3 linked regions of the Homo sapiens genome follow. The protein of the gene in region 3 purifies or fractionates together with the protein of the main gene of each other region. This does not show direct contact. Each region holds a gene or a part of one and is shown on either strand. Other genes may lie near its edges. The genes, in order: SLC12A9, PI4K2A and NPC1.

Region 1 (3,649 bases), on a different chromosome or scaffold from region 3:
AGGGATGGGGGTGGAGTGTCGAACAAGATTGGTGCACCTGGGTCACCAAGGGGAAACACAGGCTGGGGGACTGGGAAGCAGAAACCCAGCTTGTTGGGGTGGAGGGTGGCTACCGGCGATTGACAACCTATAGCCAGCAGCTGCCATGGACCCAGTACTGTTGCAGGCACTTAGCTTGGGAGTGAGGGTGGGTAGTGGCTTTCTACCCAGTTTGCATTTCCACAAATATTTGGCCTCTTGTGCATATACCATTAGGTATGACAGCCGGGTGCGGTGGCTCACACCTGTAATCCCAGCACTTTGGGAGGCTGAGGCAGGAGGATCGCTGGAGCCCAGGAGTTCCAGACCAGCCTGGGCAACAGAGCAAGAGCCTCCCCCCAAATACAAAAATTAGCCAGGTGTGATGGCAAATGCTTGTAGTCTTGGCTACTTGGGAGGCTGAGGTGGGAGGATTGCTTGAGTCCAAGAGGTCGAGGCTGCAGTGAGCTATGATTACAGCACTGCACTTTAGCCTGGGGGTTGGAGTGAGACCTTGTCTCTTAAAAAAAAGGAAGGAATGACCACTGAGTGATTAAATCCAAGGCTGCCCAATGAATACCAGGCATATCCCTTTAGCACATTTGATATCTGAGTCTGATCCTTAAGATCGGGGCTGGAGATTTTCTTACCCCGTGACGCATGATCATCCGTGTCCTCCTTTTCCTCCTTCCTAGGACCCTGCTGCAGGAAGACTATGGGTTCTTCCGCGCCATCAGCCTGTGGCCCCCACTGGTGTTGATCGGAATCTATGCCACAGCGCTCTCAGCGTCCATGAGCTCGCTCATTGGTGCCTCCCGCATCCTCCATGCCCTGGCCCGGGATGACCTCTTTGGTGGGTTCTCTGCCTCCTTGCTGGCTTGGAGCACGCCCTCCCTTGTCTGTCTCTCCGTCCCCGCTGAGCCCTGGCTGATGTGTCTGCTGTGGATTCTGTTTTTCTAGGCGTGATCTTGGCACCGGCCAAGGTTGTGTCCCGAGGGGGAAACCCCTGGGCAGCTGTACTTTATTCTTGGGGCCTGGTGCAGGTGAGCCTTCTTCTTCAAGGGGCCCTTTCCCTCACCCCACCAGCTGGCAGGATGGGGGTGCAGTTAGATGCAGGCTGGGAGACAAATGTAAAGACAAATGCGTATGCACTTGGGGTTGCACTGGCACTCTGCAGGGTTCACTGGCACTTTGTGGGGTTCACCAGCACCTTGCAGGTTGCCCCAGTGCTTTGCAGAGTTCATTGGCACCCTGGGAGGTTCACTGGCACTTTTTGGGGTACACGGGCATTGTGCAGGGTTCACTGACACTTTTTGGGGTATACTAGTATTTTTCAGTATTCACTGGCACTTTGTGGGGTGCCCCAGCACTTTGAGGGATTCACTGGCACTCTGTGGGATGTACCAACACTTTGTGGGGGTTCACTGATACTTTGGAGGTTTGGTGGCACTCTGTGGGAGTGCATTGGCCCTTTCTGGGGATCACTGACATTGGGGGTGCACTTGCACTTTACAGGGCTCACGGGCACTTTTCAGGGTTCATTGACACTTTGGGGTGCACTGGCACTCTCTGGGGTTCATTGACACTTTGGGGGTGCGCTGGCACTTTGCATGGTTCACTGGTACTTTCCAGGGTTCACTGACACTTTGGGGGTACACTGGCACTTTCTGGGGTTCACTGACACTGGGGATACACTGGCACTTTTGGGGTTTAATAGCATTTTAGGGGCTCATTGACACTTTGGGGGTGCACTGGCACTTTTGGGGTTTAATAGCATTTTGGGGGTTCATTGACACTTTGGGGGTGCACTGGCACTTTGCAGGGTTCACTGGCACTTTCTGGGGCTCATTGACACTTTGGGGTACACTGGCATTCTTTGGTGTTCACTGGCATTTTGGGGGTGCACTGGCACTTTGGAACAACGGCACGCCTCTTGGCCCTTGCCCAGCTGGTGCTCCTGGCTGGGAAGCTGAACACACTGGCTGCTGTGGTCACTGTCTTCTACCTGGTGGCCTATGCTGCCGTGGACCTGTCCTGCCTGAGCCTGGAGTGGGCCTCGGCCCCCAACTTCCGGTGAGAGACTCAGATCTGTGTCCCCAGAGAGAAGAAGGGAGGACTCGGGCTCAGGCGTGGGGCTGGGGACTGCAGCCTCGTGTGCGGCCTGCCCTGAGTTTCTGTCCCTCCTCCCCTCCATGCCCGCAGCCCCACCTTCAGCCTGTTCTCCTGGCACACCTGCCTGCTGGGGGTGGCCTCCTGCCTGCTCATGATGTTCCTCATCAGTCCTGGCGCGGCTGGTGGCTCCCTGCTCCTCATGGGTCTGCTGGCTGCCCTGCTCACCGCGCGAGGAGGCCCCAGTAGCTGGGGCTATGTCAGCCAGGCCTTGCTTTTCCACCAGGTATGGGGAGCTGGTGGGGCGGTGGGGAAATGGGAGGTGGTCAAAGAACCCCCTCTCTCTTTGGCTGGAGTTGGTGCTCCCGTCCAGGAGGCGCTGAACGGGGCTGTGCATTTGATCCTGCCACTTCCCCACTGCCTCACCCCTATACCCAGGTGCGTAAGTATCTGCTTCGGCTGGACGTCCGGAAGGATCACGTGAAGTTCTGGCGGCCCCAGCTGCTGCTCCTGGTGGGGAACCCCCGGGGCGCCCTGCCTCTGCTGCGGTTGGCCAACCAGCTTAAGAAGGGGGGGCTGTATGTGCTGGGCCACGTCACCCTGGGAGACCTCGGTGAGCTGCCCTCCCACTCACTCACTCACTCCCATCCTTCTCTCCCCCTACCTTTTTTTTTTTTTTGAGATGGAGCTTCGTTCTGTTGCCCAGGCTGGAGTGCAGTGGGACGATCTTGGCTCACTGCAACCTCCACCTCCCAGGTTCAAGTAATTCTCCTGCCTTAGCCTCCTGAGCTGGGATTACAGGCACACACCATCATGCCTGGCTAGTTTTTGTATTTTTAGTAGAGAAGGGGTTTCACCATGTTGGCCAAGCTAGTCTCGAACTCCTGACCTCAAGTGCTCCGCCCATCTCGGCCTCCCAAAGTGCTGGAATTGTAGGTGTGAGCCACCACGGCCAGAACCCCTCCCCCGCTTTTTTTTGAGACAAGGTCTTGCTCTGTCACCCAGGCTGGAGAGCAGTGGTGCCATCATAGTTCACTGCAGCCTCAACCTCTTGGGCTCAAGTAATCCTCCTGCCTTGGCCTCCTGAGTAGCTGGGACTACAGGTGTGTGCCACCAGGCCTGGCTCATTTGTAGAGATGAGGTCTCTTTATGTTTCCCAGGCTGTCTGGAACTCCTGGCTCAAGCAGCCCTCCCACCTTGGCTTCCCAAAGGGCAGGGATTACAGGCATGAGCCCCGACACCAGCCCCTCTGCCCCTTTTATCCTTTCCCATGACCCCTCCAAGTAGCCATAGCCCTGCCCAGGCCCGTCTGTGATTTGGACTCTAGGAGACATTGAGTTTGGACAACACTGGCTACCTTCCTTTCCTTATCTTCTCTGTAGACTCCCTGCCCTCGGACCCTGTACAGCCGCAGTATGGGGCATGGCTCAGCCTGGTGGACCGTGCCCAGGTGAAGGCTTTTGTGGATCTAACCCTCTCACCCTCCGTGCGCCAGGGGGCTCAGCATCTGCTGCGAATCTCC
Region 2 (2,781 bases), on a different chromosome or scaffold from region 3:
TCCACCTCAAGAGAGGCATACTCTGTGCTTATTAGCTTTCTTCTCCCTCTCCACCCACCCTATATGCTTGATTATTCAGGGTTTGAAGTGGGGCAGTGATGTACACAGGGCAGGGCTGCCCTCTGGTGGCCAAGAGGAGGAACCACTACTACCTTGAGTCAGGTAGGTCCTCTTTTTTATTTTATTGTTTATTTATTTATTTATTTATTTTTATTTACTGAGAGACAAAGTCTTACTCCAGGCTGGAATGCAGTGGTGCAATCTCGGCTCAGTGCAACCTCCAACTCCCGGGTTCAAGTGATTCTCCTGCCTCAGCCTCCCAAGTAGCTGGGATTACAGGCGTGTGCCACCACACCCAGCTAATTTTTGTATTTTTAGTAGAGACGAGGTTTCGCCATGTTGGCCAGGCTGGTCTCAAACTCCTGACCTCAAGCAATTCACCCACCTCAGCCTCCCAAAGTGCTGGGATTACTGGTGTGAGTCACTGCACCCAGCCTGTAGGTCCACATTTCTTATCCCAAGCCCTTGGCACTAGATTATTTTGGAATTCAGATTTTTTATTTTTGGCTCTTAGGAAGTAGTCAGCAAATACTGTATAATCCCTAGTAGGGAACCATGTCATAAAATATATTGACATTTCTGCAACAAAGAATCACACTAAAAGGAACACATCATAATTACCCATAGCTTCCTATCAGTGTAAGTTCAGGTCAGGTTTGGTTTCAAATGGGTTATGAAAATACTTTTGGTTTTCAGAGCATTGGGACTTTGGAAATGAGGACCTGGATCATCCTTTATTAGGGAGAAATAGCCCCAGGAGCCACGTCTCAGCAATTCCATGGAAACACAGGTTTCTTTGCCCTCAAAATTCCGTTCCTACCTTCTTTGTCTTCCTTCCCCCAAAGAAACTGGACAAAAAAGGTCAGAACTGTATTTGTTATTCATACATTTGCGTTGATTTAAATACATTACGTACAATTTCTACATTGGATTAGAAGAATGACACAGGGGGCAGCAACACTCTCGCAGCCCAGCCTCCATTCCCTGACACTGGAGGCAGGGCCTATGGCTGGCAGAGGGACGGTGTTCCATGAGTGCCACTCAGAAGCCTCCCCCGGCATTCTGGGCCCCTGGCTCTTCCAGAGTCCACATTCAAGGCAACCTGAGCACAGGCTTGAGGGAGAGTGGAGAAAGGCCAGGAAAGGATGCCCACACTCTTGCCTGCCAGGCCCAGGACCAGCTCTCTCCTACACTGGACCCAATTTCCTTCTGATCACAGAGCTGGTCTGGATCAAGACAATGTGGAGATCTGGTGTGGAGGCTGTGGCCAGGTGAGGCAGCCGGGCTCCCTGTTAGACCCCCAGGCTCTCTTGAGCACCAGATGGGCACTTTACCAACAGGTTTGGGTAAAAATGTCTACAGAGAGCTATGCACACCTGGGTCCCCTTCTGGCTCCTACAGTCAAGGGGCAAGTGTTCTCTCGAACATTGTTCCCAAGGCCAGTGTCCGAGTCAGCTGCATGTGATTGTCGGGGCTGGGATTGGGGCAGGCAGGCGAGCTGTACCTTCGTCCACAGGGCATGCACATCCAGCTCTCAGAAATTCTTCCTGTCAGCCAGGTGGAAGCCCGGGACAAGTGGACTCTTGGTGGCTGGACTGGAAGGGGACCGGCGGGGACCAGCCTGGACCAGCTGACCAGAGGGCTGCACATCTCTGCTCTGCAGCCGGGCAAGCAGAGGACATGCAGCCATAGTCCTCACTCCCTTTCTTTGGTTGTTTTTCAAACCTTCAAGATAGTTACTTTCTGAGGTTGACTGACCAATCGCAAGGTGCCAGAATTGTGAAATGTCCAGTAGCACAGGGCATGAACACAGCTGCCCCTCCAGACACAGATGGCACCCTTTTTACTCCCTCCTGAGGCCGTACTTTGCTTTGGTGTAGAAATGGCTCAAACACCTGGCAAGTGGGGGTGGGGAGTGAGGCAGCAGGGGAAAAGACACATGGAAGCAAGAAGATACGCACTGAGCTGCGCAGGACCTGGGACAGTTTGAAGGCCTCTCTCCTTTGGGCCTCACCTTTCTCAGGGAAGCCATAGAGAAATCGGCCTAGGACAAGTCAGAGAGAAAAGGGAAACTGCCACTTATGAGGCAGAATCCACGTCCTGTTACTTCCACCAAGCAGCAGCGGTAGCACAGAAAAAAGTCCAAGAACCTAATAGCCTGTCCTCTTGGAAGCCAAGACTCATCCCAGAGCCCTTGCAGAGACCCACTCCCGAAGACAAACTGAACTCTTACATCAAAAGAGTTGGGGGGAAAAAATTTAAAACGAGAGGAACAAATGAGAAGATTGGGACCAAGGACTCAGGAAGCAAGGTGGGATATGTTCACCCATAGACCACTTAGCTCCCGGCATACACTCCGGCTGCGTGGATCACTTTTACATGCTGGGAGTCAACTTCCTATTAAAATATAAATGCTAAGACTAGCTCTTCCTGCCTCTGCTTGAGAAACAGACAAGCTGTAGGCCAGCAGAGAGCAGAGAGGTTCTCTATGATTGTGTGCGGAAGTGCTGGCGGGGGTAAAGCAAAAACCTCCCTTCCAGGAGAACTGTTTCGAGGCTTGCAGCCAGCCCACAGCACTGATGGGAGATGGAGGAGGCTTGGCAAAAACCCAAAAGAAAGGTGTGGCTTCTGTCTGTCCCAGTGCTGTGGTACTGCGAGTCATCCAGTTGCCCTCTGACACCACCTTGGCTCATGGGAGGAAGCAACTGCAAGGCAGCTGAA
Region 3 (3,749 bases):
GACTTTCTCCTGCCCTCCTGTCTCCAGCGGTCTTGCACCCCTGAAGTAAGTCACAGGAACCAGAATTCTTCTTCCCCAAGGAGGGTTATGGAAACTTAGAACCTTCAAAGTAATTTATAAACTTGGAAATCTTACTGTAACATTTTCTTCTACCTCTCTCTGTCTTTGAGACAGGGTCTTGCTCTATCACCCAGGCTGGAGTGCAGCAGCATGATCATAGACAACTGTAGCCTCCTGGGCTCAAGCAATCCTCCTGCCTCAGCCTCCTTAGTAGCTGAGACTACAGGTGTGTGCCACTATGCCCAGCTAACTTAAAAAAAATTTTTTTTTTGTATAGAGGGAGTCTTGCTACATTGCCCTGGCTGAGAATTTACATTTCTAACAAGTTCCAAGGAGATGCTCCTGCTGCTGGTCTGGGGATGGCCGTTTGAGGATCCCTGCATGAAGGCATACACAGGACTTGATCCTCAGTGGGGGCACCAGGAGCTGGAGCCTGGGGAGTGGGAAGCGAGAGCACAGAGCTGACTGAGGACCACGAGGTCGTCGTGGAGGACCTAGGCTGAAGGTCCTGAAGAAATCCCCATAGTTTCACTGCCAGGCCAGCCAGGTGGACATCTCAGGGCTGAGGAGGTGAGAAGGCAAGACAGAAAGTGAAACAGCACTTTATAGGATAGGGATGGGAAGGTCATCTGCATCATGGGACTCCTTGGGGAGGGGTTCGGTCATTGCTCCAGATGAAGGTTTAGTCTTTTCATCGTAAATTTGCTTTCACTGTTGGGAAAGAGATCTTCACCTCCATTTTCTTAACTTCAAAATGGAAATGACAGATGCTTTTGAGTGGTCTGAATACTTGAAATTTGAGGGAAAACGTTACCAGAAACACATACAACTAGAGTTAAAGATAAATACATATATCAAACGCATGGCTCAAAAATGACAACGCGTCTTCTTTATCTGCCTTCACGTAGAACTTAAAACAGACCCTGGTCCCCACCTCGGGGTTTCCTCGCGCCCACGGGCTGCGCTGCGCAGCTGGGCCAGCAGGTGGCGAGGCTCCCGCACTTTTTTTCCCGGGCCTGGCCGCACCGCCACCGCCCACCCCGCGCTCCGCCCCGCCCCGCCCCGCCGCACTCGCGGATCGTCACACGGTCAGGCCACCGCGCGTCACCGCCCCGGGCTCTGCTAGAAAGTGCCGGGGTCCAGATTCCTTTCAGGTGACTGGGTTGGGAGGAGAAGTCGCTCAGCGTAATTGTCGGAGCCGAAATAAACAGAGACTCCGCGGCCGGGCGGGACCTTACCCGGAAGTCCCCCAGAACAGCACTACCCTTCGCTGAAACCTCGCCCGCCCCCTCCAACCCAGAGACGAAAAGGGAAAGCATCACGGCCAGAAACCGTTGGCACAACTCCACAGATACTCTCCCGGGCCGAGCCAGACTCCATAAGTCCCGCGCCTGGCCCCCGGGGATTGCAGGGGCTGAGGAGAAGGGCAACACGGGGACCTTGAAGCGGGGTCGCGGCGGCGCCCCAGCCCGGGCCAGGGAGTCCCGGCAGCGGCACCTCCCAGAAAGGGCGGAGCCGACGACGCCTTCTTCCTTCCTGACCGGCGCGCGCAGCCTGCTGCCGCGGTCAGCGCCTGCTCCTGCTCCTCCGCTCCTCCTGCGCGGGGTGCTGAAACAGCCCGGGGAAGTAGAGCCGCCTCCGGGGAGCCCAACCAGCCGAACGCCGCCGGCGTCAGCAGCCTTGCGCGGCCACAGCATGACCGCTCGCGGCCTGGCCCTTGGCCTCCTCCTGCTGCTACTGTGTCCAGCGCAGGTGAGCGGTCGCCGGCCACCGGGACGCCCTGTGGGGACGTGGCGGGGCCGAGAGCCGGGGAAGGCGACGGGCCCAGCGACGGCTCAGGCCCGGGTCCTGGGGAAGTTGGTCTGGCGATGGAGAGCTCGGAGGTTCCTCACTTGTCCTGTTTCTGTCTCCGGCCACGCTCTCTTTCCTGTGGTCTGGAAGAGGGTGGCAGTGGGGGCTTGGGTGACCTGTTCTGAGCTTGTTCCATCTGTGGTCACCTAATTTCTCTGTGTAGGATGTGGCACCAGAAGAAGGGAGGAAAGTGGGTAGAGTGGGATAGGGACACTACTTGCTTTTTAAAAAATTCTGCTACATGCGCACGAACTCCAAAATTTAGGAGCTCTAACCACTTTATTTCCTCTTCTCATCACCTGAGGATGGAGGTGGAAGCAGAGGTAAAGAGACACAAACTTCCTCAAGCACCCGGTGAAACTGCCTTGAGTACTTGACATAAGTCAGCTTGGTCTTCTAAAGAGGGCAGGTTACTTTTCATCAACTCCTTTTTACACCTCAGGACACTGAGACTCACAGGGCGGTATTGAATTTCCCCTTGTCACTATTAGCCAGCGACAGGATGGGGCCTGGAACTCGGTGTCCTGCTGACTCCTTCTGGGGGCTTTTGCTTGGTTTAATAGCTTTGGGAAAGAGCACCTCAGTATTTGTGTGTCTGTAGTTTCCTCTTTTAAAACTGGAGTGGGGCAGTGTCACGCTGTGACTCGTTAAACCAAATCAGGATGAGAGTGCCTCCGGGGAATTGTGTCCTTGTGCACATTAACGCCCCTCACATAGGTGTGGCGTCAATAGGAAGTGGTGAATCAGGGGAGAGGGGGTTCCGTGGACTAGAAAAAACTCTCCTTCGACTTCTATTTAGTTCTCAGAAGGGGATAGGTGATGTTGATCCAATAATGGACTAAGAGCCAGGAGAAGGGCTCCGCGGGAGGATCTCTTGAGCTCAGCAGTTCAAGACCAGCCGGGGCAACATGGTGAAACACCGTCTTAAAAACATTTTGTTTTTCTTTTCATTGTTGAGGTTGAGGCTGCTGTGAGCTGTGATCACGCCGGTGTACTCCAGCCTGGGCAACAGAGCAAGACCCTGTGTCAAAACAAAAAAGAGAGAGAAATAAATAATAGCAATTATGTGCCGTAGAGAAAATGTGGCTATTCTGTTTCCCTAGAGTTTTTTAAAATTTATTTTTAAAATTTATTTATTTTAGAGACAGGTTCTTGCTCTGTTGCCCAGGCGTGGGGGCAGTGTCGCCATCATAGCTCACTGCAGCCTGGAACTCCTGGCCTCAAGCAGTCCTTCCACCTTGGCCTCCCAAAGCACTGGGATTATTGTGAGCACCACTCCTGGCCCCTCCTAGAGTTTTAGATCAGGACCTTAAATAGGCTTCCCTTTTTTTTGGAGACAGAGTCTCTGTTGCCCAGTCTGGAGTGTAGTGGCGCAATCTCGGCTCACTGCAACCTCTGCCTCCTGGATTCAAGCAATTCTGGTGCCTCAGCCTCCCAGGTAGCTAGGATTACAGGTGCCCACCACCACGCCCAGCTAATTTTTGTATTTTCCGTGGAGATGGGGTTTCACCGTGTTGGTCAGGCTGGTCTCGAAATCCTGACCTCTAGCGATCCGCCCTCCTCTTTTGGGGATTACAGGTGTGAGCCACCTCGCCCAGCCAGGCTTCACATTATTAAGTAGCCATCTCTTAAGTATTTTTTAAATCTCAAGTACCCAAGGCTGATGGCCAATGAGTGCTTCTTTTATGACATTTGGGATAGGTCAGAGGTTTGTTGTAAGTCTCTTGCAAAAATGCCTGGAGGCCTTTTCAAGGTCTGTAAACCTTAACTGGAAATAATCCTATTATTATTTTAAAAATTCCTCATGTCTGAAAGCTTTCAGTGCACCTGAACAGATT

Evidence for each region.
Region 1: the proteins of NPC1 (region 3) and SLC12A9 purify together in Homo sapiens (affinity purification with mass spectrometry, with the first as the bait; one large-scale study listed by BioGRID). This does not show direct contact.
Region 2: the proteins of NPC1 (region 3) and PI4K2A purify together in Homo sapiens (affinity purification with mass spectrometry; 2 studies listed by BioGRID and IntAct, with this or other methods). This does not show direct contact.

The regions. Positions count from the first base shown.
Region 1 is NC_000007.14:100,859,172-100,862,820, forward strand, and holds part of SLC12A9 (solute carrier family 12 member 9), read left to right. Parts: intron 1-713; coding exon 714-871; intron 872-978; coding exon 979-1,061; intron 1,062-1,966; coding exon 1,967-2,091; intron 2,092-2,220; coding exon 2,221-2,413; intron 2,414-2,565; coding exon 2,566-2,740; intron 2,741-3,509; coding exon 3,510-3,649. UniProt on the Homo sapiens protein: May be an inhibitor of SLC12A1. Seems to correspond to a subunit of a multimeric transport system and thus, additional subunits may be required for its function. May play a role in lysosomal ion flux and osmoregulation.
Region 2 is NC_000010.11:97,674,193-97,676,973, reverse strand, and holds the end of PI4K2A (phosphatidylinositol 4-kinase type 2-alpha), read right to left. Parts: 3' UTR 540-2,781; downstream 1-539. UniProt on the Homo sapiens protein: Membrane-bound phosphatidylinositol-4 kinase (PI4-kinase) that catalyzes the phosphorylation of phosphatidylinositol (PI) to phosphatidylinositol 4-phosphate (PI4P), a lipid that plays important roles in endocytosis, Golgi function, protein sorting and membrane trafficking and is required for prolonged survival of neurons.
Region 3 is NC_000018.10:23,584,350-23,588,098, reverse strand, and holds the start of NPC1 (NPC intracellular cholesterol transporter 1 precursor), read left to right. Parts: upstream 1-1,592; 5' UTR 1,593-1,755; coding exon 1,756-1,812; intron 1,813-3,749. UniProt on the Homo sapiens protein: Intracellular cholesterol transporter which acts in concert with NPC2 and plays an important role in the egress of cholesterol from the endosomal/lysosomal compartment.